Regions from separate parts of the Homo sapiens genome. Here all the other regions are linked to region 1. Evidence: fine-mapped expression QTL. A gene starts in region 1. Each other region holds a variant in brackets. All regions are shown on one strand. Distances are from middle to middle. Region 1 holds the start of SAMD4B (sterile alpha motif domain containing 4B). Region 2 overlaps SAMD4B (sterile alpha motif domain containing 4B). Region 3 overlaps SAMD4B (sterile alpha motif domain containing 4B).

The links. PIP is the estimated chance that this variant, and not a neighbour inherited with it, causes the effect. A credible set is the group of variants that fine-mapping cannot tell apart.
Region 2: its variant is the best candidate, but not a certain one, in a credible set for the expression of SAMD4B in whole blood (INTERVAL, PIP 0.63).
Region 3: its variant is the best candidate, but not a certain one, in a credible set for the expression of SAMD4B in visceral fat (GTEx, PIP 0.54).

What each region holds. Positions count from the first base shown.
Region 1 is chr19:39,338,085-39,346,258 of GRCh38, reverse strand. SAMD4B (sterile alpha motif domain containing 4B) reads right to left here and starts at 3,838. Exons shown (of 14, transcript NM_001384574.2): 1 at 3,683-3,838. RefSeq lists a silencer at 3,720-4,149.
Region 2 is chr19:39,374,178-39,382,351 of GRCh38, reverse strand. SAMD4B (sterile alpha motif domain containing 4B) reads right to left here. Exons shown (of 14, transcript NM_001384574.2): 5 at 6,463-6,702; 6 at 5,806-5,915; 7 at 5,561-5,647; 8 at 4,528-4,867; 9 at 3,763-3,848; 10 at 2,268-2,386; 11 at 1,567-1,765; 12 at 1,239-1,362. Among named protein-coding and RNA genes, the nearest start is that of PAF1, 13 kb to the left of the region's middle. The variant T/C (reference allele first, on the strand shown) is at 3,990.
Region 3 is chr19:39,357,983-39,366,156 of GRCh38, reverse strand. The region is part of intron 3 of SAMD4B (sterile alpha motif domain containing 4B); the gene reads right to left. Among named protein-coding and RNA genes, the nearest start is that of SAMD4B, 20 kb to the right of the region's middle. The variant A/G (reference allele first, on the strand shown) is at 3,270.

The DNA of each region.
Region 1 (8,174 bases):
GTCTTTCCAAATAAAAGGCTCCCTCTCACTGCTGAATTTCTACAGCATATAATTTGTACCTCATTTTCTGCTCTGTACATGCCCAAGCCCCCTACTGGTATTGTGAGCTCCCTGAAGGCAGGCCCCAATATTTACCCTGGGGTCTCTGTTTCCCCTTCTGGGCCCTAGAAACAGAATCCCTTGAAAAAATGCCAAGAGCTCTGTGGAGGCTCCAGACTTAGCAGCTGAGAGGGGCTGCTAAGAGAAGCCAACCAGGACGGGTGAGGCAGGTCACCAGGCAAAGGACTTGGGGTAGCTCAGAATCAGGAAACAGCACAAAGAAAGTCCCTAAGACAGGAGCAAGTAGGGCAGGAGTAAAGGCAAAGGGTGCTGTGTGGAGAAAAAAAAGGGAGGTGAGAGGAGAGGAGGGGGCAGGGAAGGTGTACTAAACCTGAATGAGGAGTGAGATCTGAGGAACTTGGAGATTTCTGGCCAAATGCAGAAGGAAGAGCTGCTTATTCTCCAGTGATTTCCAATAACTTACAAAGAGTAGATCCCACCTTGTGGGATTCAGAGAAGAACAAGACACATCCCGTACTTTCAGAGTTCCTAGTCCAGTGAGGGTGAGTGGACAAGTACATTAAAATCTACAAGGTTGAAGGTGAGTGGTGTTCTAAGAGGTACAATGGAGGTGGAGGGGTCTTGGCAGTAAGACACAGAATGAAAAGACCTCCTGAGGGTGCCTCAAGGGGAGGGTGCCTATGTGAAGAAACAGATGGACAAGAAGAGATGGATATGTGTGTTCAAAGAAGCAGCAATTTAAAGAAGCACCAAAGGCTGGTAGTGGGCTGGAGGGGTAGCCAGAAAGAGAAAGCACTGAGGAAGATCTGAAAAGAAACCATTCAAAAGTAGAATCGGAAATAACTGCTCAGAGGATGGAGTAACCTTGTGGAGAAGCCAAGATCCTTTCAAGGTAGGTAAGAAATCTTTCTGGAGGATGGGTACTTCATAAAGGGGATTCCTAGGAAACAGGAAAGCAGCAGTGGGCAGTAGGGCACAGAGGCATACCCTGAGGCATCTTTCAGGGGGCTTTTAGTGAGGAAAAGGAAATCCTCCTAAAGGGCACAGGTTCTCAAACTTGCGTGTGCATCAAAATGACCAGGAGGGTTTGTTAAAAACTCTTGATTGCTGGGCCCTGCTCCCAGGTTTTCAGTTTCAGTAGATCTGAGTGGGATTCAAGAATGTGTATTTCTAACAAATGTGGCTGCTGCTGGGCCAGGAACCACACTGAGAACCACTGCTATAGGGGAAGGGATTATTTGGTGAGGAGGTCCTCAAAGGGGAGAAGGAAGAAGGCTTCTGAAAGGGAAATGGGGAGAATCCTAAGTCTCTAAGGAGGGTGTTAAGGGTCTCTTGATCTCTGAAGGGAAGAGGGGTCTATGAGCATGGCACCTAAGAAAAATGGTCTGAAAGAAAGATCTCGGAGCACTGGGATTTCAAGGGGGCGGGGAAAGGTGTCTCTCAAGAATCTTTACAAGGAAACATAGAGGCTCTTGGGCAACGAGTCTGGAGAATGTTGGGGACCTCTGAAGGGATAATGGGAAAAGGGGGCCCCCTGAGAAAGGTCTCTGAGTTGACTTCAGAGGAAAGAGAATGGGGAAATGAGAGGGTGTAAATAGCAATTCTAAAGTTAGTGGGTAAATCTGATAGGGTCCTAAATAATGTTTCTTGGGGATGTCAGAAGTGGAATCTGAGGGAAAGTTCTGAGGAAGTCTCAGGAAGCGCTGGGAGTGGGTGGCTGATGGAGGGCAATTTGGGAGAAAATTCTCTAAAAAGTGTCTGAGGAAGGTGTGGTCTTCTGAGACTGGTCCTGGAGTGGGATGACAGAGGGATGTTTTTAGGAAAAACTCTTCAGAGATCTCAGTTGAGGAGAAAGCTGAGTAAAGTCTCCAAAAGAGTATATGGGGAAGGCGGGGTCTTCTGAGAGAGTGTCAGAGGAGAGGGTTTTTCAGAAAGAATTATAGGACTTTCTCAGAGCAAGAGCTCGGGTTATTTTGGGGGAAAATTAGGTGTGTGTGAGGGTCTTCTTCAAGGGATTCTAGAGGATTTAGGGGACCTGTGTGAGCAAGTTCAGGGAGGGATATCTCTAGAAAAGTCCCTTAGTAAGGCAGAAGTATTGATTCAAGGGGTTCTGGTGGTGTCAGGAAGGTCTTGGAGGGATTTCAAGAACATACGTCAGGAGGGCTCCAGGGGGTCGCTGGGGTCTCTAAGCTGTGTGTGTGTGTGGGGGGGGGGGGTCCTGAAAACCTGCATATCAGAGGGGTCACCAAGAGAATCTTACGGTCTTACAGGGGTTGTGAGGAGGATCTTCAGAAAATTCCTCTAAAACCGGTCTGCAAGGGGGGATTCTGAGGTGTTAGTGAAGGGGAGTTCTACGGGATCTGAGAGAAAAACCATGAGGAAAGTTTTCAGGATCCTTAAACAATTTTTGGAGCGTGTGATGTGGGGGACTGGAAAAGATGTGGAGTATGTAAAAGGGATTTTGGAAGAAGCTTTTGGAATATGATGCTGAGAGTCCTCTGGAGATTTCAGGCAATTGCTGGAGATTTTTAGAATGAGTGGGGGTGGGGAAGGGGATCCCGGTGAAGATCACTGGGCTACATGAGGGTGATCTCTAGGGCATTTTAGGGTGGTGAGACCAGGGGGAGACAGGAGGCCTCTGGGGGAGACTTTTGGGATCTGTGGAAAGGTCCAGAGGGATACGTGAAGGGGGAGTGTGTATGAGAGATGGTTGCAATACGGTGGGGAGGGGGATGGAGTCTTCTAGGTGAGTTTTTGGGATCTGGGGGCATTTCACAAAGTCTGTGAGGAAGATTTATTTTGGGGATATGGGAAGGAGATCTTCAGGGAAGATGATCACGGTCCGTCGGGGGCATTCTGAAGGACTTCTGGGAGGGGGAATCAGAAATGCAGGGGGTATGAGCGGAAAATCTCCAAGGAGGTTTCTGGAATGGGGTAAGTGGGAGGGAAAATTCTTAGGATCCGGGAGGGGGAAGTCGGGTGAGCCTGTTGGGCTGTGAGAGGCAGGGCTCCGGGGGAGAGTTCTGGAATGGACAGGGGTCCGGAGGGAGCCTTGGGGAGGTGTGCAGGGCTCGTGAGGGAGGCTCCTGGAGCAGCTATGAGAGCCACGCTGTGGAATGGACGAGGAGTGGCCTCCGAGGACTATTTCTGGAGACAGGAGGAGGACGGGGGCTTCGGGGCCAAAGGGCGGGGGTCTGCGAGGAAAGCTGCTGGGACCCATGAAGGGCTCGAGGAGGCGACTCCACGGGAGGGGTGGGTTTTGCGGGGACCTTTCAGGGCGCACACGGGGGATCGGCAGGCTTTCCGGGGCTCTCCGAGGGGGATGTGCGGGGGGTCCTGAGGAGAGGCCCCCGGCCCGGCCCCTCGGCAATCCCGAGGGCATGAGAAAGATTTCGGAGGGAAGCTTCGGCCAGGGCCCAGGAGGGAGACTGGGGACGGGCGCGGGGCTTCTCCCGTGGGGCCCGGCCCCCCGAGGCCCGCGTTCCGCACCCGCCCGCCGCCGCCGCCCGCGGTTCGGGGTCCCTGAGGGGGCGGGGCCGCCCGCGCGGCCTGGGTCGCCCTGAGGGGAGCCCCGCGCGCCCCGACTCGCCGCCGCCCCGCGCCGGCCCGGCCCGAGACTCACCGCCTCGGCCTTCGCCGCCACCGCCGCCGCTCGGGCCTCCTCAGGCCACCGCCGCCGCCGTCGCCCCCTCTCGGGCCCGCAAGCTCCCCTCCCTCCTCCCGCACCGACCACCGCCGCCGCCGCCGCCGCCGCCGTCGCGCTGCGTCACCGCGCCGTGCGTCACCGCCCCTGGCCCCGCCCCGACGGGGGCCGCCGCGCGCCGGCATTAGCTCACGCCCGGGTGACGAACGGCGCGCCAGCCAACGGGCGGCGAGGGCAGCCCGAAGGGCGGGAGGTGTGAGCCGAGTAAGGCGGGGTCGCGGCGAGGGGGGAGCGACGGTGGTGGAACGGGGCCCAAGAGGCCCGCCCCCTCCTCGGCGGGATTGGTCGGACGTGGGGGTGACGGGCAGTCGGCCAGGCCTGGGGTTTGGGGCTGGGGGGCGGGGAAGGGGCGGGGCGCGCGGGGCGTTGCCCAGGGCAACGGGCCCGGCGGAGTCTGAGGTTGGGCCTCCAGGCCCGCAGGGGGCAGGCTCGCGCGCGTCCACCCCAGCTGCCCCGAGCGAAGTCACAGTTCCTGATTCAGGCGTTCCAGGCCTCCTCTTCCCCGCCCCTTGGGTGGCCCGCCTCACCCAAGGCTGTCCTCAGTGGGCGTCTGCACTCGGGCTTCTGGGCGCTCGGCTTTCTCATCGCGCTGTTCTCAGCCTTGCCGCTTGCTCTCTCCGATGGGAATGGCGAGGCGAGATCTAGCCTTTAGGGTGGGAAGAGAATGCACAGAAAGCGCTAAGGATCAAGGAGGCTGTCAATAAACGGGAGTTGTTGCTGTGACTTTGGTTGTGATCTGTGCGTTCCACAAACTGTATTGGGTCCGGGTGAACTAATCAGAGGGACCTGTGTTCAGAAGGCTCTCGGTGACAGAGATCTGGCTTGTTACAGGCACTTAGAGAGGCAGTCGGGATGGAGGGTCGAGTTGAAGACAGGGAGGGGTGAGGAACGAGCAGAGGCCAGTTGTTTGGCCACTTGAGGGAGTTTGGACTTGTCCCGAGGGCACTAGGGAGCCGTGAAGGGCTTCAAGCCGGGGAGGATCATGGTGAGTCTGGGGTTTTGGAGAGATGTCTCTCTGGCTTATACATGGAGGGCGGATTGGAGGGAATGAAACGGGATCGGGAGTCCAGGGAGGCAGCTGGGGGAGGGGGTGGGGAAGAAAGAGGGGGTTTGCACGAGGGAGGGACTGTGGGGAGGGAAGGAGGTGCAGGTGGGAGGGACGCCCTGGAGGCAGAGCGAACGGGCCCTGACACTGGCTGGCTATGGAGTGGAAGGGGGAGAAAAGTTTAGGACCAGGCCCCTCTAGCCGGGAGACTGGGCGCCAGAAGCAGGTTGGGAAGATACTAAGCCCAATGTGGATGCCTAGTAGCGAGGTCCAGGAGGTGCACAAACCCTGGGTCTGGAGCTTAAGGGAGAAATTGAGGCTGGAGACCAAGATTTAAGGATCGTCAAAGATGGTAATTGAGGCTGTGGGAGTTAGGGGTCTAGCCCGGGGAGGGTATGAAGGGTCACTGGAGACAGGGACTGAACAGAACCCTGAAACAGAGAGGCAGGATTTGAGCAAAGGAATTGACGCTGTCGATGAATATTGCAAAAGGCAGCCAGAGAGAGGAAAACCAGGAGAGTGTGGCATTATAGACGCTTTGAGGAAAGGCTGTTTCACCAGGGTGGGGCCATGTCACAAACCCCATCCACTACCTCCTGCATTTAAGCAACAGCCTTCACACTGCATAGAATTATTGTGCTCATTAACTGCTGGTTCATTAATTCATTCAATAATATTTCTTGACTATCTAATATGTGCCAGGCTCTGCTTAAGGTGCTAGAAACACAACAATAGGATGAGCGCGGTGGCTCACACCTGTAATCCCAGCATTTTGGGAGGCCGAGGCAGGTGTTCGAGACCAGCCTGACCAACATGGTGAAATCCCATCTCTACTAAAAATACAAAATTAGCGGGGCGTGGTGGCACATGCCTGTAGTCCCAGCTACTTGGGAGGCTGAGGCAAGAGAATCGCTTGAACCCGGGTGGCGGAGGTTGCAGTGAGCCAAGATCGTGCCATTGCACTCCAGCCTGGGCAACAACAGTGAAACTCCGTCTCAAAAAAAAAACAAAAAAAAAACAAAAAGACTTACATTCTAGTTCTTGGGGACACAAACAATAAGGAAATACAGTGTAACTTCGTGATAAGTACCAAGGAGAAAAAGAAAGCAGTGGCTGGGCATGGTGACTCATGCCTGTAATCCCAGCACTTTGGGAGGCTGAGGCTGGTGGATCACTTGAGGCCAGGAGTTTGAGACCAGCCTGGCCAAAGTGGCAAAACCCTGTCTCTACTAAAAATGCCAAAAATTAACTGGGCATAGTGATGCGTGCCTGTAGTTCCAGCTACTCAGGAGGGTGAGGCAGGAGAATCACTTGAACCCAGGAGTCGGAGGTTGCAATAAGCCGAGATTTGCCATTGCACTCTAGCCCAGGTGACAGAGCGAGACTATGTCTCTAAATAAATAAACAAATAAATAACAAGAAAGCAGCTAAGGGAATGGAGTAATGCAGCCAGAATTAATTTACATGGGGAAAGGCCTCTTTCATTAGGTGAGACTGAAACAGAAATCTGAAGGAATGAAGGAGAAAGTGGGTTCCAGAAAGAGAAAACAGCAAGTGCAAAGGCCATGTAGTAGGATCATTCACAGAACCACAAAGGGGCCAGCATTGCTGGAGTGGAGTGAGCAAAAGAGGGCAGTGAAGGACAAGGTCCAAGAGGCAATGGGGTAGGGGTGGTGACAGATAACTTAGTATTTTAGTCATTGTTGGTGTGTGTGTGTGTGTGTGTGTGTGTGTGTGTGGGGGGGGGGGGCAGGGTCTCACTCTGTTGCCCAGACTGGATTGTAGTGGTGCGATCGCGGCTCACTGCAACCTCGGCTCACTGCAACCCCTGCCTCCTGGGTTCAAGTGATTCTCCTGCCTCAGCCTCTGGAGTAGCTGGAACTACAGCCGTATGCCATCAAACCTGGCTAAGTTTTGTATTTTTAGTAGAGATGGGGTTTCACCATGTTGCCCAGGCTGGTCTTGAACTCCTGGACTCAAGTGATCTGCCTGCCTCGGCCTCCCAAAGTGTTGGGATTACAGGCGTGAGCCACTGCGCCTGGCCTGCTGTTTGGTTTTTAGAGATAGGATCTTACTCTGTCACCTGGGCTGGAGTGCAGTGGTGTGATCCTAGCTCACTGCAGCCTCAAACTCCTGGGCTCAAGTGATCCTCCCAACCTCAGCCTCCCAAGTAGCTGGTACCTGGGATTACAGACACATGCCACCATGCCCGGCTACTTTTAAAATTTTTTTGTAGAGACAAGGTCTTGCTATGTTGCCCAGGCTGGTCTTGAACTCCTGGTCTCAAGCAATTCTCCTGCCTTGGCCTCCCAAAGTGCTGGGATTACAGGCATGAGCCACTGTGTCTGGCCCATGGGAGGGTTTGAGACCAGCCTGGCCAACATGGTAAAACCCTGTCTCTACTAAAAATACAAAAATATGGCTAGGCGCGGTGGCTCACACCTGTAATCCCAGCACTTTGGGAAGCTGAGGTGGGCTGATCACGAGGTCAGGAGTTCGAGACTAGCCTGACCAACATGGTGAAACCCCGTCTCTACTAGAAATACAAAAATTAGCTGGTTGTGGTGGCGCACACCTGTAATCCCAGCTACTCATGAGGCTGAGGCAGGAGAACTGCTTGAACCTGGGAGGTGGAGGTTGCAGTGAGCCGAGATTGTGCCACTGCACTCCAGCCTGGGTGACAGAGAGACACTCCATCTCAAGAAAAAAAAAAAAAAATTAGCCGGGTGTGGTGGCTCACGCCTGTAATCCCAGCTACTTGGGAGGCTGAAGTGAGAGAATCGCTTGAACCCAGGAGGCGGAGGTTGCGGTGAGCTGAGATGGTGCCACTGTACTCCAGCCTGGGTGACAGAGCGAGACCCCTGTCTCAAAAAAAAAAAAAAAGAAAAGAAAAAAAGAAAACCAGGCAAGTGTGGTGTCATGAAGACGATGTTTCAGGGAACAGGGAGTGATGGGCTGTGTCAGATGTGGCTGAGGAGGAGTGAGAATTGACCATTAGATCCAGCACCGTGGAGTGCATGGGTGACCTTGACAAGGGCATGTCAGCTGAGAGGAATACAGGTGAAAGGCTGATTGGAGAAGGCAGAAGAGAAAACTGGGAGGAGAAATTGGAGGCAGCAATGTAGATTATTCTTTTGAGAAATCTTTTTTTTTTTTTTGAGAAGGAGTCTCACTCTGTCACCCAGGCTAGAGTGCAGTGGCGCAATCTTGGCTCACTGCAAGCTCCGCCTCCTGGGTTCACGCCATTCTCCTGCCTCATCCTCCTGAGTAACTGGGACTACAGGCACCTGCCACCACGCCCGGCTAATTTTTTGTATTTTTAGTAGAGACGGGGTTTCACCTTGTTAGCCAGGATGGTCTCGATCT
Region 2 (8,174 bases), 36 kb before region 1:
AATCAGTGCAGGAGAGCTGTCTGACAAAGCCTGGGACACAGCATGCTGGTAAAGAGAATGGTTCTTGTTCATTCCTGCGGTTCATCCACCTGCTTGTTTAACATCATTTACAGATGCCTACTGTGTGTCAAGCCCTGTGCTAGGATGAACATGATGGATGGGTTCCCACGGCCTCAACAGATGGCTGTCTACACAACCTCATCAAGTAAGACTCCTGACTGACTTGGCAGTTTATGACATGAATTCTGCAAATCCATGCTCTCTCTAGAGTCAGCCCATTCCAGACGAGCCTTATCTGTCTCTGCAGCCCCAGTGGCCAGCACCGTGTGGAGGAGTCAACCCCTCACTTGTTGAGCAGGGCAGGGACCTGCGGTTAGCAAGTCTCTAATCTTCCTTTTGCCCACTTGTCCCAACATCTTTTTGAGATGGGGTCTCACTGTCGCCCTGGCTGCAGTGCAGTGGCACAATCTCTGCTCACTACAGCCTTGACCTCCTGGGCTCAAGCGATCCTCCTGCCTCACCCTCCCGAGTAGCTGGGACTACGGGTGTGTGCCACCATGCCCAGATAATTTCTGTATTTTTTTGTACAGATGGGGTTTCGCCATGTTGTCCAGACTGGTCTCAAACCGATCTACTTGCCTCAGCTTCCCAAAAGTGCTGAAATTACAGGTGTGAGTTACTGTGCCCGCACTTGGCCCAACTTCTGCTCTCCCATCTCCAGGATGGTCTGTAAGCAGAGGTCAAAACAGCCCTCTCACTTCAAACACCTGTTCTAAGAGGTGAAGTCCACTGGTTCCTGTGTGGTCACCTGGCATCTGAAAGAATCCCAGTAGGCTGATGGGCAGGACTCCCCTCCACAGAAATCTCACACTTTAACTGTCCCATCCCCTCAACCCCTTCTAAGTTGAGTATTCAATGATCCTGTAAAGAAAGAGATGATGACAAAGAGCAACACAGACACTAAGATTATGACATAGGGTGGGAAACATGAGATGGGGTAGGAGTAAGGGGTGAGAGATGATGACTCAGAGGGGTGGGGGCAAGACCTGAGAGATAAAATTGAAGCAGAGGAGGAAAACAACCCCCCACAATTGGGGGAGATGGGTGCAGAGTGGTGTGAGGTATGGGGAGAGGTGCCAATGCAGTCTAGAAGAACAGTGGACATGAGACCCAGGAGAAAAAAGAAAGGTCAGCTGAGGATGTTGGCCAGGCAGAGTCCCAAGGGTGGGGCACCTCACCTGGAGGGAACATGAGAATGGCCTGGGGTGACGAGTGGACCGGGAGCGAGTGGGTGCGCTGCACAGAGCTGCGGCTCTGACTGGGCATGCTGTTGCTGCCTCCAGGGTTGGCAAACCACAGGTTCTACACAGGTCCCAGGAAGAGAGAAAGTAGTGAGTGCAGAAGAGGCCCAGACCCAAGAGTGGTGGAGGTGGTACAGGCCTTCTCCCACTCCCACCCCCGCCACCTCTAAGCTGGGTCCAGACACAGAGTATACAGGCAAATAGACATCCCAGGTACTGCCACCCCAACCCCAGGAGGCCAGGCCCCTGCTTCCAGCCAGCTTACCTGTCGGCCCTGGCCTCCAAGGCTGGGGCTGGTGAGGGCATGTCGAGGGGAGACACCCCCAATGCCCGAGGGGCTCAGGAGGCCCATCCGGCCGGGTGGGAGGGCCCGGGGAGGCATTGGGAACTGCCGCTGGGTACGCCGGGCCACTCCCATCCCCACAGAGCCAGCTATGGGGAGCGAGTTGGAGCCGAATGCCCAGCTATGAGAGAGCAGAAGGCAGGGTGTTAATTTACATAGATGGGGCCTATCTGTCCACCCCTTCCTCACCTTCCCCAACAACCCCAAGTTGTAGGAGAGAACATAAACCTCCATCACACATTCTGTCCTCATCTGCCCCAAGGGTACCCCCTGGAAGGAGATGGGACATGTACAAGGGTTTCTTCACTGTCCACTCAAAACAGTTCTCCAATCTTCAATTCTCAAAGGAGACATTTCTGTTATTTGTCTGGTCTAAGGAGGGACTTCCAGGCCCTCTGCATACAGGCGAGGAGCAAGGTACATATGAGGGGCCTGCTCATGGGACATGTGTTGTTTTTCAGCTCAGCATCCTATTCTAGTGGAAATTTTCTTCTGGGAAAGTCGCCCAGTGACTGAATAAAACTAGATTCTCAGCCCAGAACACAATCACCCCTCTAAGCACGATCTGCTAACCAGCAAAGGCCTATGGAGGGCAGGTCCCTGTAACCTGGCCACCCGCCTACCCTTTCTGCTGCCGGTAGTTCTGCATCTCTAGTGCGGCTTTGCGCGGGAATGTCCGGAGGAGCTTCAGCACTTGCTGTTTCCAGGATAGCAGCCGTTTCTTCTGCGTCTCCGTGAAAGCCTAGAATTGGCAGGACACCGGTGAAGCAGAGAGGGTGATGCTTCCTTCAGACCTCCCTTCCAGTCTTCCATTCATTTGTTCAAATATTTATTGCCTGGCCGGGCGTGGTGGCTCAAGCTGTAATCCCAGCACTTTGGGAGGCTGAGGCGGGTGGATCACTTGAGGTCAGGAGTTGGAGACCAGCCTGGACAACATGGTGAAACCCCACCTCTACTAAAAGTACAAAAATTATCCAGGCATGGTAGTGTGTGTCTGTAATCCCAGATACTTGGGAGGCTGAGGCAGGAGAATCACTTGAACCTGGGAGGCGGAGGTTGCAGTGAGCCGAGACTGCGCCATTGCACTCCAGCCTGGGCAACAGAGCGAGACTCTGTTTCCAAAAAAAAGATTCATTGCTCATCTACTCTGTGCCTGTGCCAGGCAATTCTGGGATGCAGAGGTGACCATGCCCAGAGAGCTTACAGTCTGGTTGTGAGGGAAAGATACATACATGATGATAACTGTGACAAATTATCCCTCCCTGAGGGAGAAGAACAGGAAGCAAAAGAAACTTAAATAAAAATGAGGGGTTGGTAAAGGTGTCCCTGAGGTATAAATGTTTGAACTGACAGCTGAGGGGTGAGGAGGAGGAAAGGGTACTGTTGCTGACAAAAGAGTATGTACGGGCTGGGCATGGTTGCTCATGCCTATAATCCCAGTACTTTGGGAGGCCAGGGCAGGGGATCGCTTGAGGCCAGGAGTTCGAGATCAGCCTAGGCAATAAAGCAATACTCCATCTCTAAAAAAGAAAATCGTCACGCCTGTAATCTCAGCACTTTGGGAGGCTGAGGTGGAAGGATCACTTGAGGTCAGTTCAAAACCAGCCAGGGCAACAGTGTGAGACCTCGTCTCTATTAAAAAAAAAAAAAAGAGAGAGAGAGAGGAAGAGTGTGTACAAGGGTTCTGAGAAGAAGCCTCTAAAGCCAACACTGGTAAGATACAAGACTGGAAGGGCTGGCATGTGCCACGTCAGGTAAGGCCCTATGGGCCACATACAACACAATGGTCTTGAGAAAGATGGGGCAGGCTTTCCCTCACTCTGTCGTCCAGGCTGGAGTGCAGTGGCGCGATCTTGGCTCACCACAAGCTCCACCTGCCGGGTTCACGCCATTCTGCCTCAGCCTCCCGCGTAGCTGGGACTGCAGGCACCTGCCACCACGCCCGGCTAATTTTTTGTATTTTTAGTAAAGACTGGGTTTCACTGTGTTAGCCAGGATGGTCTCGATCTCCTGACCTCATGATCCGCCCGCCTCGGTGGCCGAAGTGCTGGGACTACAGGCGTGAACCACCACGCCTGGCCGCCTTTCCCTTTTTGAGTATGCTAGGGAAGGCCTTACCTCATGAGTCAGGCACTTTTCGATGAGCTGGAGGTAACTGGTGATGTTCTCCTCGTCTGGTCGGGACACCAGCAGTTGGGTGCACACTGGGGGGACATGAGAAAGGGCAGGAGGTTAACCCCTAGTATGCCCTCTGCCATGTTCCAGCCTCCAGCTGGCTCGTGCACAAGAAGGAACAGGAGACTCAGGCTGGATGAATATCAACTATTAAGTGCTAGCCATGGTAT[T/C]TGGGTTATCATGAGGATATACAACATAGTGCCTGACACAATCTTGTCACTACACACATTTTTAGCCTTAGAAACCTAAAGCTCAGAGTTGAGTCACTTGCCTCAGGTCCAGATCCAGATCTAGACTGATCTGGATCCAAGTGTAAAGTCTGCTGTATCATGCTGCTTTAGGAAAGGCTGAAGCTGTGATAAATTTCACCATCCCCATCCCCTGGACTTTGGTCCCCTCTGAGAGAAATCAATGGACTCCCCTCAACTGCTCACCCTTTACTACATGGAATTTCTTCTGACCCACTGCCCCATTTCTGCTCAGCCTGGAGACGCTTTGAGGGGAAGGGCTGTTATCCACCATCAGCCCAGACGTGCCCAAGGGCAAGGGGCCTTGTCACCCTGTCTTGGCTACTCTCTGTAGTGTTCCAGTCTCCAGTAGGCTTTACAAAGCCCTGCTCCCACCATCGAACTTGGATTTGATCCCTGGTGCTTGGGTTCACTTGGCTTTCTGCCTCAGGATTTCCTGCTAGGCTGTGGCTGGTCTCACCTTTGCCCATCACCCGTGTAAACTGGCTGGGGATGTCTCCGTCGGCGACGGGAGCCGGGGCAGGCTCACTGCCATCAGTGGGAGCTGGAGCTGGTGGAGGTGGGTAGTTCTCCACAGCTGGAGGGTCCTTGGCCTCGGTGCCTTTGTCTGTGCCGGGGTGGGCTAGGGGAGGCTCAGCACCTGGCAGCGGTGGTTCCCCCGGGGCCCCATCCTTGGCAGTAGGGGTGGTGGTGGCGGCAGCCACGGTGGCCTGGAGGACACTGTAGGCCTTGATGGGAGTGATGATGATCTGCTGCAGCTCCTGCAGAGCGTTTCGTAGGTTCCCGCCTTCCAGCACATCCTGGATGGGAGGACACAGGCTGGGGTCACATGCAGACCCTACAATGAGGGACAGAGAGTATCTACACAGAGAGTCAGACAGGGCTTGCAGAAGGCTGGGTAGGACCCTGGGTTCCAGCACATAGAGAAGGCATGTAAGGGTACTGCAAGCCCACAAACATATAGGTACACATTTCCTCTTTCCCATTAAGATGAAGTCCCACAGAACTCACGAAAAGCCAGTCTAATGTTGGAGTCTCAAGGACCCAACAAGGATAGAATCAGAGATTCAGACCTAGACACTGAGCAGGGAAAAATACAAACAGAAGGCAGTGGCAAGGAAACGGAATCAGATGTGGAAGGAAAATGAGTTTAGAAACAATCAAATGGAAAGAGAGATTGTACAGACAGAGACACTCTGCTCTACCAGAAAGACCAGTAAGAAATGGAAAAGCAAAAGGGGAGAGAAGGTGTAGAGTCAAAAGACAGAGATCCTGGAACCACAAACCAGGAAAGACAGGGAGGGGAGACTCTTAGCCACCAGCAAGTGAGCCTTTTGATGCCGGCTTGCATGTGGTCCCTGAAGTCTGGGTCCCTAGGGCTGGGAATTTTGGAGGCCACATCCGAGGAGTCTGGAGGCCAACTCAGGGCCTTTGGTCTACTGGTACCACCAAGTGGCTGGCTGGCCTTGAAGATGCAGAAACCAGGTCCTCACCTTCTCTAGGGACTTGAGGACGCTCTGTCTCTCACGCAGCTTCTGGATGCTCAGGGCTATCTTGTGGCGGGCACCTTTGGTGACGTTCTGTGATAAGGGCAGAAGGGGACAGGAAGCTAGAGATGTGAGGCTGAGATATTTGGGGGTACCCAAATAGAGATCAAGGAGACAGAGGAGGCTTGGGCTGCAAGGATGCCAAACTAGCGCTGCCCCCAGCACCTCCCTGATGGTCCCCTTGGCTTCACCTGAGACTCCAGGTGCTGCTCAGTCAGTGTCATCATCTCCTCGTAGCTCATCTGTGAGAAGAGGGCTGCATACTTGTGCAAACGGAGGCTCTTGAGCCATGAGGGCACATCTTTGGCAAAGGAGGGAGAGTGAAAGGTCAGGAGTTTGGCCCAGATTACCAGGGTAAAGGAAAAGTTGTGGGGATAAACCCACAGGAAGCCTCAAAAGATGCAAAAAATTGGGAGGGGGTTGGGGGGAGCTAAGGTTCCATCAGCTCCTTCTTCATCTGCCTAGCCAGACCCTCAGGCAGCCTTCCCTGGGAAGGACATCTGACCCTTCTAAGCTGCTAGGCTGGATGTATACCAGGATGACCTCACTGATTGCTCCAAAACTCTTGCTGGAACCTCTGTTCCATCACTTAGCTGTGTCCTGGCTTCCTTGTCAGACTGGGGTGTGTGAAGACAGGGGGCTCCTTCCCAGTCAGACTAGAACTTGTTAGGGTAGATGTGGGGTCTCTCTGCTTAGTCCTGAGCCCTAAAAGCAGGGACTATCTACTCCCCTCAGACATGTCCCCTCCTCAGAGGGGTAAGCAGGTGTCAGCTACAAGCTCCTTTCTGTCCTCTAAGCTCTGCAGAAGCCCCTGGAAAAGGGTCCTGGTGCTGCTGTCCCCAATGTACCTTTCATGCCACTGCCATCCTCCTGGAAGGTGTTCCGGCTGGAGCCCTGCTCCTCTGTCTGCTCACTGCCAGAGGAGGCCACGCTGCTCTGGGGCGAGAGAGGTGCGTGATCGGGCGTGGTAAAAGCAGCCCGGGCCCCAAGCTCCTCTGGACTCGGCCACTCACCAGGGACCTGGGGGCTTGTAGGGATGAGTGACATGGAGCGCTTCAGTGGGCTAGGGTGGATTTGGCAGGGGAGACCTGGCCAGAGTGGGAGAAAAGCAAAATATTAGACCTGGGGACCCAACCACAGGAGACCATCCCCCTGCCGTCAGTGCCAGGATGGCAGTTTGGCCCCATAACCTGCCAAGAGGAAGGGACCTGGGGTCCAAGGGTAACTGCCTACCAGATATACCTCATTCTCTTACCTCCAACACCCAACCCATCAGCAAGCTGTCAGCCACTTTCCTGAATTTCTCCAGTTCCGCTGGCTCAAGCCACCAGCACCCCTGGCAGGAATTACTGCCACAGCCTCCTCATTGGTTTCCTGCCTTCACTCTTGCCTCCTACAGTCCACGCCCCTCACAACAGCCATAAAGGTCCTTCTAAAAATGCAAATCTGACCGAGCCTGACTCCTGCTCAAATCCCTGTGACTTCCTTTCATAGTGGGAACAAAATACAAATGCTTCCACATGCCTAAAAGGCCATGCAGGACCTGGCCCCTGTTCCTCTCCCACAACCCACCACTTGGTTCATGCCTCTCTAGCCTTTGCCTCCTCCCAAACTCCCCTTTGTTCCTGAAACACTCAAGGTTGTTCCAGCCTCAGGACTTCTGGACTTGCTCTTTCTTCCTACCTTCTTGATCTCAGCGGTTGGCTCCCTCAAGTCTCATCTCAAGTGTCGCCTCCTCTGAGGCCTACCCTGAACCCTTAATCTGAAGTCACTGCCCACCTCTGCTGCCCCAATCCGTCACTCTATCACATTACTGTCTTGTCTTTCTTACAGCACCCATCACAACCTGAAATTATCAAGTTATTTGTTTATTTTTTTAAAAATTTATTTACTTTTTTGAGATGGAGTCTTGCTCTGTCACTAGGCCAGAGTGCAGTGGCACGATCTGGGCTCACTGCAACCTCTGCCTCCTGGGTTCAAGCAATTCCCCTGCCTCAGCCTCCCGAGTAGCTGGGACTACAGATGCCTGCCACCATGCTCAGCTAATTTTTTTGTATTTTAGTAGAGGCGGGGTTTCACCACATTGGCCAGGATGGTCTCAATCTCCTGACCTCGTGATCCGCCCACCTCAGCCTCCTAAAGTGCTGGGATTACAGGCGTGAGCCACTGCGCCCAGCCTGTTTACTTATTAACTACACCCCCTGCTAGAATAGAAGACCTGTGACAGCAGAAACCTGTCCCATCTTAAACATCATTATATCTTGTAATGAATGAAGTACGTAAGCTGCTTCCTCAACAACCCTGTTATGGGGCCTCACTACCTCCCATTTTTTTTCTGCAGTGAGCCCAAACTGGCCACTCATGAGGCCTGGTGACTCAGGGTGATCCCAGGTCCTCTTCTGAAGGATGCTCCATACCCTCTGTCCATCCCAAGTCTGAGGTTGGCAAAGGAATCCAACTTGATTTTTTTTTTTGAGATGGAGTTTTGCTCTGTCGCCGAGTGCGGTGGTGCAATCTTGGCTCACTGCAACCTCCACCTCCTGGGTTCAAGCGATTCTCC
Region 3 (8,174 bases), 20 kb before region 1:
TTTAGTGGAGGGGGCGTTTAACCATGTTGCCCAGACTGGTCTGGAACTCCTGACCTCAGGTGATCCACCTACCTTTCCTCCCAAAGTGCTGGGATTATAGGCGTTAGCCACCGTGTCCTGCCTGTTACTTTTTTCACTATGTTGGCCAAGCTAGTCTCAAATTCCTGCTCTCAAATGACTTGCCCACCTCAGCCTCCCAAAGTGCTAAGATTACAGGCATGAGCCACTGTGCCCAGCCAAGGGAACACCTGTTAAATCCATTCATTCAAAGTCATCAACTCATACTATGTCTACAGCATTGGTTAAAATTAATAGTAGAACCAATACCACTATTGCTGTTGCTACTACTGACAATAGCAATAACATATGGCACTTTCATTCAGAATGAAGGATACTGTTTATTGAGCATTTACTATGTGCCAGACACTATGCTAAAAATGATTGCTTTTCATCCCTGTTTTAATCCTGTTTTGGTGTGCTCATCTTGCAGGTGAGAAAACAGATTTGGGAAGGTGAGGTCACACACCCTAAGTGACAGAGCCCATTAAGCGACACAGCTGAGATCTGAATCCAGGCTCTGTGTGCCTCCATTTTTTTTTTTTGACATGGAGGCTTGCTCTGTTGTTCAAGTTGGAGTGCAGTGGCATGATCTCGGTTCACTGCAACCTCCACCTCCTGGATTCAAGCAATTCTCCTGCCTCAGCCCCCACCAGTAGCTGGGATTACAGGCGCACGCCACCACACCTGGCTAATTTTTATATTTTGAGTAGAGACGGGCTTTTGCCATATTGGCCATGCTAGTATCAAGCTTCTAAACTCAGGTGATCCACCTGCCTCGGCCTCCCAAAGTGCTGGGATTGCAGGTGTGAGCCATGGTGTCCGGCAGGGAGGAACTTTTTTTTTTTTTTTTTTTTACGGAGTCTCGCTCTGTCACCCAGGCTGGAGTGCGGTGGCACGATCTCGGCTCACTGCAAGCTCTGCCTCCTGGGTTCACACCATTCTCCTGCCTCAGCCTCCTGAGTAGCTGGGACTACACACGCCCGCCACCACACCCGGCTAATTTATTTTTTTTTGTATTTTTAGTAGAGATGGGGTTTCACCGTGTTAGCCAGGATGGTCTCGATCTCCTGACCTCGTGATCCACTTGCCTCAGCCTCCCAAAGTGCTGGGATTCCAGGTGTGAGCCACTGCGCCCAGCCAGGGGGGAACTTTTTACCCACAACCTTTTATCTCTCCAATCCCAAGTCTCTCTTCTTCCCTGGATTTCCAGATCCCCTTCAGCATCTGCCACTCAAAGCTAGGAAACCTCATTCCCTTGTCTGTCTTCACTTGAACCGACTGCCAAGATTATGAAGCTGTCCTTCAGGCCATCTCCACATCTAAAGATCATTTTCCAAGGCAGAAAAGGCCTCACTGAAGTCACAGAACTTTTGTCTTTCCTGCCCTCCCAACTCCACCTGGCACTGGATCAAACGATAAGAACTCTGTGGTACCCTGTTTGATAACTTAGTCCTGTAGTTTTCAGTTCTTGATGAGAAAGAAGAAAGACAGTGATTCCCATTAGGGACAGAAAGTCAAGAATGAAAATAAAAAAAAATAAAAATAAGTCAAGGATATGCACCCCAGTCAAAAACACACAGTGGCCTGGGCAGTATGCTTCCTCCTCTGTAAAGTAAGGATTATAAAGCTGCTGAGAAGATGTAGGGAGATGATGCATGAAAAGCATCTGACAGAGTGTACTCATAGTAAACATTCAGTCTGTGGCTCAGTGACGGGTGTTTTCCTCTCTTCTCCAGTAGTCGAGTCAGCCTGCCCCTCCAGCCCTACCCTGACATTCTCAATCGCTGTTGTTTAGGCCTTGCAGCATAGCCAGAGGCATCTGGGACAGAGAGAAGCCTTGTCTAGTCCTTTCCCCACTCCAGAGTACTGCCAGGACCCCAGGGCTAAGGGACACAGCTTCTCTGGTACTGCCAGGGGACATGACAGAACAGCCCCAAGGGTTGGGCTCAATGCAGGACCTTGTTCTGCTGCCGAGAAAGGGGAGAGTGGTTTTGGACAAATGGAGGCTGATTCTGGGGAAATGTGTGTTCATGTGTCTGTGTGGTGGTGGTGGGGAGGGCGGGCCTCCCATGACTGAGAAGCATCAGTGAGCACTGGAACTGGCCCAAGTAATTTGTGCAGCCTCAGGCCCCTTGGGGTGAGCCCAGCTGGGGCTGTAAATAATGGGTGGGGATGGAACTTCTAGTTTCCTGCCCAGATCAGAAAAAGCCTGGCCCAGAGTGGAGGCACAGCAGAGGCCCAACGAATACCTGCACAATTGAACCCAGATGGTCCCCTGGAAGGTAGTGGTGTACTCTGTCTCAGGTCCTAGCAGAGTATACTAAGTAAGAGCACAAGTTCAACAGGCAAACTTGCTGGATTCAAAATCTAGCTCTGCCTCCATGACCTAACTCAATATCATTGTGGGCCAGTCCTTTAACCTCTCTGATCCTTGGTCTCTTCTGTAAATGGGGACTGTAAGGCCTCTACCTCACAGGATTGTTGTAAAGAGTCAATGAGACAATCATGCAAAGCGTCTGGCATGTGGTAAGTGCTCAAGTACATTTTAACTATTATTGTTGTTGCTCCTCGTTGAATCTAGAGCCCATGCTGTTTCAGGGCTGGTGGGAACAGTTCATGTACAAAAGCACATCTGGGCCTTCCCCTTAAGATTCCCGACAGGGGTGGGGAATTTCATACAGTTATTTACCAAAAACAGACACATCTCTGATTCCTTGGAGCTAGAAGTACAACAAGCAATGATGAAATTCTGGAGGTGGGCAGATGGGGGAAGGGGCTGGGGAATGCCAAGACACCAACGGCTGCTTCTCACCAAGCTGCAAACTTGGACTCTGCAAACATGGAGAGGTTGAGGAATGCTGTGCGTATAAATGTCCTCCCTGGCTATAGTGGCAGCAGGGCAGAGCTGGCCAGGTGACTAGAGCTAAGTAGGTCATGACCCTGGGTCCTGGCAAATTACAGGCACCAATCGAGACTGCTCTAAGAGCAAACCCATTTTTATGTACTGGCCTGGTGCAACAATTGGAGTAGCCTCAGGCACCAGTCAGAGGGGCTAGGGTTTGGCTCTAAACATGACCTTCTCTGCCTCACCCCTGCTCACATGGACACAGGGGAGGGCAGGGGGCTCACATTTTTGTTTGATGAACTGTCAAGCAGAGCCTGAAAGTGGAGGGTGGAGGACAGGGCTGAGCTCTGATGACTCACTTGCC[A/G]TTGCCCCTCCTGACCTCAGTTTCCCCACCCAGACTGAATGAGCCAGAGAGGGAGGAGTTTAAACCTGCTAGATATGGGGACTGACTCAGAATAGGAGGTGGGAAGAAAATGCAGGAAATGTCTCCCAGGAAGCTACAGGACAGTGGAGGGAAGTGGAATTCAGCTCCCCTGACCCCCCTAGTCTCCTTCCTCCTGTCCATAGGAACAGCCTTCTGGTCCAAGTCAGCATCAGAGGAAAGGAGAGGACCAGGGTTATTGTTCTAGCTCCAAAGAGGCAGGGAAGACAGCACCTGGAGAACAAACAGGGATTACAACAAGGGGTAACCTGGGACCTCTTCTTCCCTGTTCCAGAGACCCTTGGAATATTGCTTTTCTGTTTCTAGGTGTTGCGCCTCATGTCCTACTTCCATGAAACTGATGCTGGCTGCCTGTGCTGGAGGACTTCCCTATACCTTCCCAGCTGCCTGAGAGGAAGCGATGACCTAGGCCAGGCTTTCCACAGCTATAAGCCCCGACTCCCCACTTCTAGTAGGTCACACAACAGTATCCTCACCAGCTTCCCGGGCCTACCCAAAATCAGCGTCAGCATCAAGACAAGTGGTTCTCCACTGGGTGCACCCAAGAGTCAACCAGGGAGCTTTAAATCTCCAGGGATAGGACCTGGGCTTCACATTATTTTTAGAAAGGCCCTGGGGGATTCTAACACAAAGCTAGGGACATATTCACCTAGGTCAGCTCTGTGCTACCTGATCTATCTGAGCAGGAAGCAGACAACTGGGCAGCTCTGACCCACACCCAAGGTCTCCCTGGAGAACTGGAGGAAGTACTAAGGTTGGTTCGGTGGGACATGGAGATACAACCCACAAAAAAGCAGGGGATCTACCTCACTGTTCAGCTCTCCAGGTTTGAAGGGACCAAGCTAAAGAAGGGCTTGGAGACAGGCAACTTTTTTTTTTCTTTGAGACGGAGTCTGGCTCTGTCGCCCAGGCTGGAGTGCAGTGGTGCGATCTCGGATCATTGCAAGCTCCTGTGCCTCCTGGGTTCACGCCATTCTCCTGCCTCAGCCTCCTGAGTAGCTGGGACTACAGGCGCCCACCACCATGTCCGGTTAATTTTTTTGTATTTTTAGTAGAGATGGGGTTTCACCGTGTTAGCCAGGATGGTCTCCATCTCCTGACCTCGTGATCCGCCCACCTCGGCCTCCGAAAGTGCTGGGATTACAGGCGTGAGCCACCGCGCCCGGCCGGGAAGACAGGCAACTCTTTTTTTTTTAGATGGAGTCTCACTCTGTTGCCCAGGCTGGAGTACAGTGGCGCAATCTCGGCTCACTGCAAACTCCGCCTCCTGGGTTCACACCATTCTCCTGCCTCAGCCTCCCAAGTAGCTGGGACTACAGGTACCCACTACCACGTCTGGCTAATTTTTTGTATTTTTAGTAGAGACGGGGTTTCACCATTTTAGCCAGGATGGTCTCAATCTCCTGACCTCATGATCCGCCTGCCTCGGCCTCCCAAAGTGCTGGGATTACAGGTGTGAGCCATGGCGCCCGGCCAGGGAACTCTTAACTGGGGACTAGTGAACCAACTGAACTCAAGAGTTGGTTTGTGGAGTAGGTGTGCATCTTTTTGGGGAGGGTGGGGAGGAGGGGAAGATTTTCTAACTGGTCCATCCCGCTAAATATTAAGAACTCTTGCCCTAGAATAATGTGCTGGGCCTCTCCCAAAAGAAAGTAGTATGCTTGGCTGTGGCTCTGTCTTCTTTGGCACATTATTTCAGAGCCCAAGAAGTACCTGGAAAGTACCAGAACAACCCCCTCACTGTCCAAATGGGGATCCTGAGGCCCGAGAGGGTCAGGCAGGACTGACCCAGGTCACAAGAGGTGTTAGTGGAGAGCTGGATCTACAACTCTTGGGTGTCTCATGTCTCACAACAAATGAATCATCCAGCAGGGCATCACCTCTCACACTGCCTGGTGAGCAGAAGAACCTGGGTACTCGTTCCCAGGCCCATACCCTCAGGATTCTGATTTAGTAGGTCTATGGGGGGCAGAAATCTGGATTGTAACAGTCACCTAACCCCAGTGATTCTGATGATGATGCAAGTTTGAGAAACACCAGGGAATGGGAAGGCCATAATAACCAGAGGAGAAACAAGAGTATGAACAGCTCCTTCTTTGAGGCAGGTCTCCAGGCCCAGAAAGTAGCACCTTCCTTTACAAATAAGGCAGGTGGGGTTCTACTTGAGGGTAGGAGTGAAACAGGAGGCACCTGCTTCTTAGTCTTAGAGCCCTCAGGTCTACTAGAAAACAGGCATTCAAGACTCTACCAGAATTTACCTCTGTGATCACTTCTCTTTCAAGTCATGCTTTGCTCCAGTCCTGGCAGGCTTCCTGCTGACTCTGGAACACACCATGGCCTTCCCTCATTCTAAGTTTTCCTTTCCTCTCCACCCATTTAAGTACCAGCTTGTTATTCTCACCATCTGATATGGGGCTATGGATAAAAACCTTGATTCATATATTCATTCATCATTCAATTCATTTCACAGCACTTCTCAACCCTGGCTAGGCATTACCACCAATATCCCACTGCAAACCATCTGGGAACGGGCCTCAGGTTATTTGTATAAAATGCAGCATGTCTTTCAAGGGCAATGTGGTGAGAACAAATATTTTATTTTATTTTTTTATTTTTTTTTTTTTGAGACGGAGTCTTGCTCTGTCGCCCAGGCTGGAGTGCAGTGGTACAATCTTGGCTCACTGCAAGCTCCGCCTCCCGGGTTGACACCATTCTCCTGCCTCAGCCTCCCGAGTAGCTAGGACTACAGGCACCCGCCACGACGCCCGGCTAATTTTTTTGTATTTTTAGTAGAGACGGGGTTTCACCGTGTTAGCCAGGATGGTCTCGATCTCCTGACCTCGTGATCCGCCTGCCTCGGCCTCCCAAAGTGCTGGGATTACAGGCTTGAGCCACCGCGCCTGGCCTGGAGAACAAATATTTTAATTGCATACACCTTTAAACTAGCAGTTCTGCAGAATCTGAGGAGTTCATCCTAGAGATGTTTAAAGGGTACTCATTACATCACTGTTTGTAAGATGAAGACCACATGTACCATGTGGAAGAGTCTATTGGTCAAGAGCTCTAAAGAACTCTGAAGTCAAATTTGAACTCTACCTCTTATCAATTGTGTGACCCACAGCAAGTCATTTAATATCTCCAGACCTACAGTCTCCTCTGTAAAATGGGGGAGTAACAGGGGAGTACAGAGTTGTTGTGAGGTGTAAATAAATACTTAACGAGAAACAGACGTATGTGCTGAATACGGAATGATCTTCAAATCATATTGGTAAGTGAAAAAACCAAACTGGTTAATATGCATGTTTGGCCATATGTATTAAGACAAAACAATGACAAAGTTGGAAGGAAAATATATATGCATTCATATATGCAGGGAATTTATCTCATAAAACATAAGGAAATGAGAACGTGAAGTCTGGAAGAAAAACCTCACTTTCACCTTTTGTACTATCTGATTTTACTGCAAGTTCTGAAAACAAAAGCAAAAACTAAAAGCACTGAAATTACTAAGTACTACTGGTGATTCTGATATACAGCTAAGAGTGGCACCCAGAGGTAATCCAACTGCCTGCTCAGGATGGGACAGTGGGGATGTGTGACGAAGCTGTGTAAGACACTGGCCTGCCCCACAGGAGCCCCCACTATAAAGGCAGAGTCATATCACAAACAGAACTCCTGCCTTTAGTGTTAGAGTGGTGGGGAGTGTGGCAGGGGTGAGAAATGGCTGAGCTCCGAGCCTGCTGCAGCTGAGCTGGGTTCTTATTGCTCTTTGTCTAGGACTAAGAACTTACTGCCAGACTAGGAACTAAGCTGATGTGACCCCTGGCCTGAGTAACCGTCTCCCGCTACAATCATGCTGCTTCTGTGACTTCCACACAAAAACTCAGTAAAATAAGGGTGACTGTTGCTAAGGCAGGTGGGCCTGGGGAGATGAGGGAGGCCAGGCAGCTGTGTGGCTCCCCAAAACCCAATCCTAGCAGTCCATGCTTGTTTCCTGACTTGTAAAATGGGGCTAATGACAGGACCTACCTCATGGGGTTGTTGTGAGGACTAAGTGAGTTATTGACAATTAACAACTGACAGTTATTGTTTACTACATGTCAGGCATGTAGGAAGCCACACGTGTTAATTCACTGAATCCTCACAACTACCCTAGAAGGTAGATATAATTATCATCTTTTTTCTTTCCTTTTCTTTTTTTTTTTTTACTGAGGTTACATACTTCTCAGGATATCATGTTGAATTTAAGATGAGGAAACTGGCTGGGTGCGGTGGCTCATGCCTGTAATCCCAGCACTTTGGGAGGCTGAGGTGGGCAGATCATGAGGTCAGGAGTTTGAGACCAGACTCACCAACATGGTGAAGCCCCGTCTCTACTAAACATACAAAAATTAGCCAGGCGTGGTGGCGCGCAGGAAAGTGAGGCACAGAGAGGTTAAGTTACTTGGTTATATGGCAAGTAACAGAACTGGGATTTAAACTTAGACAGTCTGACTTGAGAGCCACGTAAGAACACTGCTTTTTTTGTTTGTTTGTTTGAGATAGAGTTTCGCTCTCATAGCCCAGGCTGGAGTGCAATGGCACGATTTTGGCTCACTGCAACCTCCGCCTCCCGGGTTCAAGCGATTCTCTTGCCTCAGCCTCCCGAGTAGCTGGGATTACAGGCACCTGCCACCATGCCCAGCTAATTTTTGTACTTTTAATAGACACGGGGTTTTGCCACGTTAGCCAGGCTGGTCTCGAACTCCCGACCTCAGGTGATCTGCCTGCCTCAGCCTCCTAAAGTGCTGGGATTACAGGCGTGAGCCACTGCATCTGGCCAAGAAC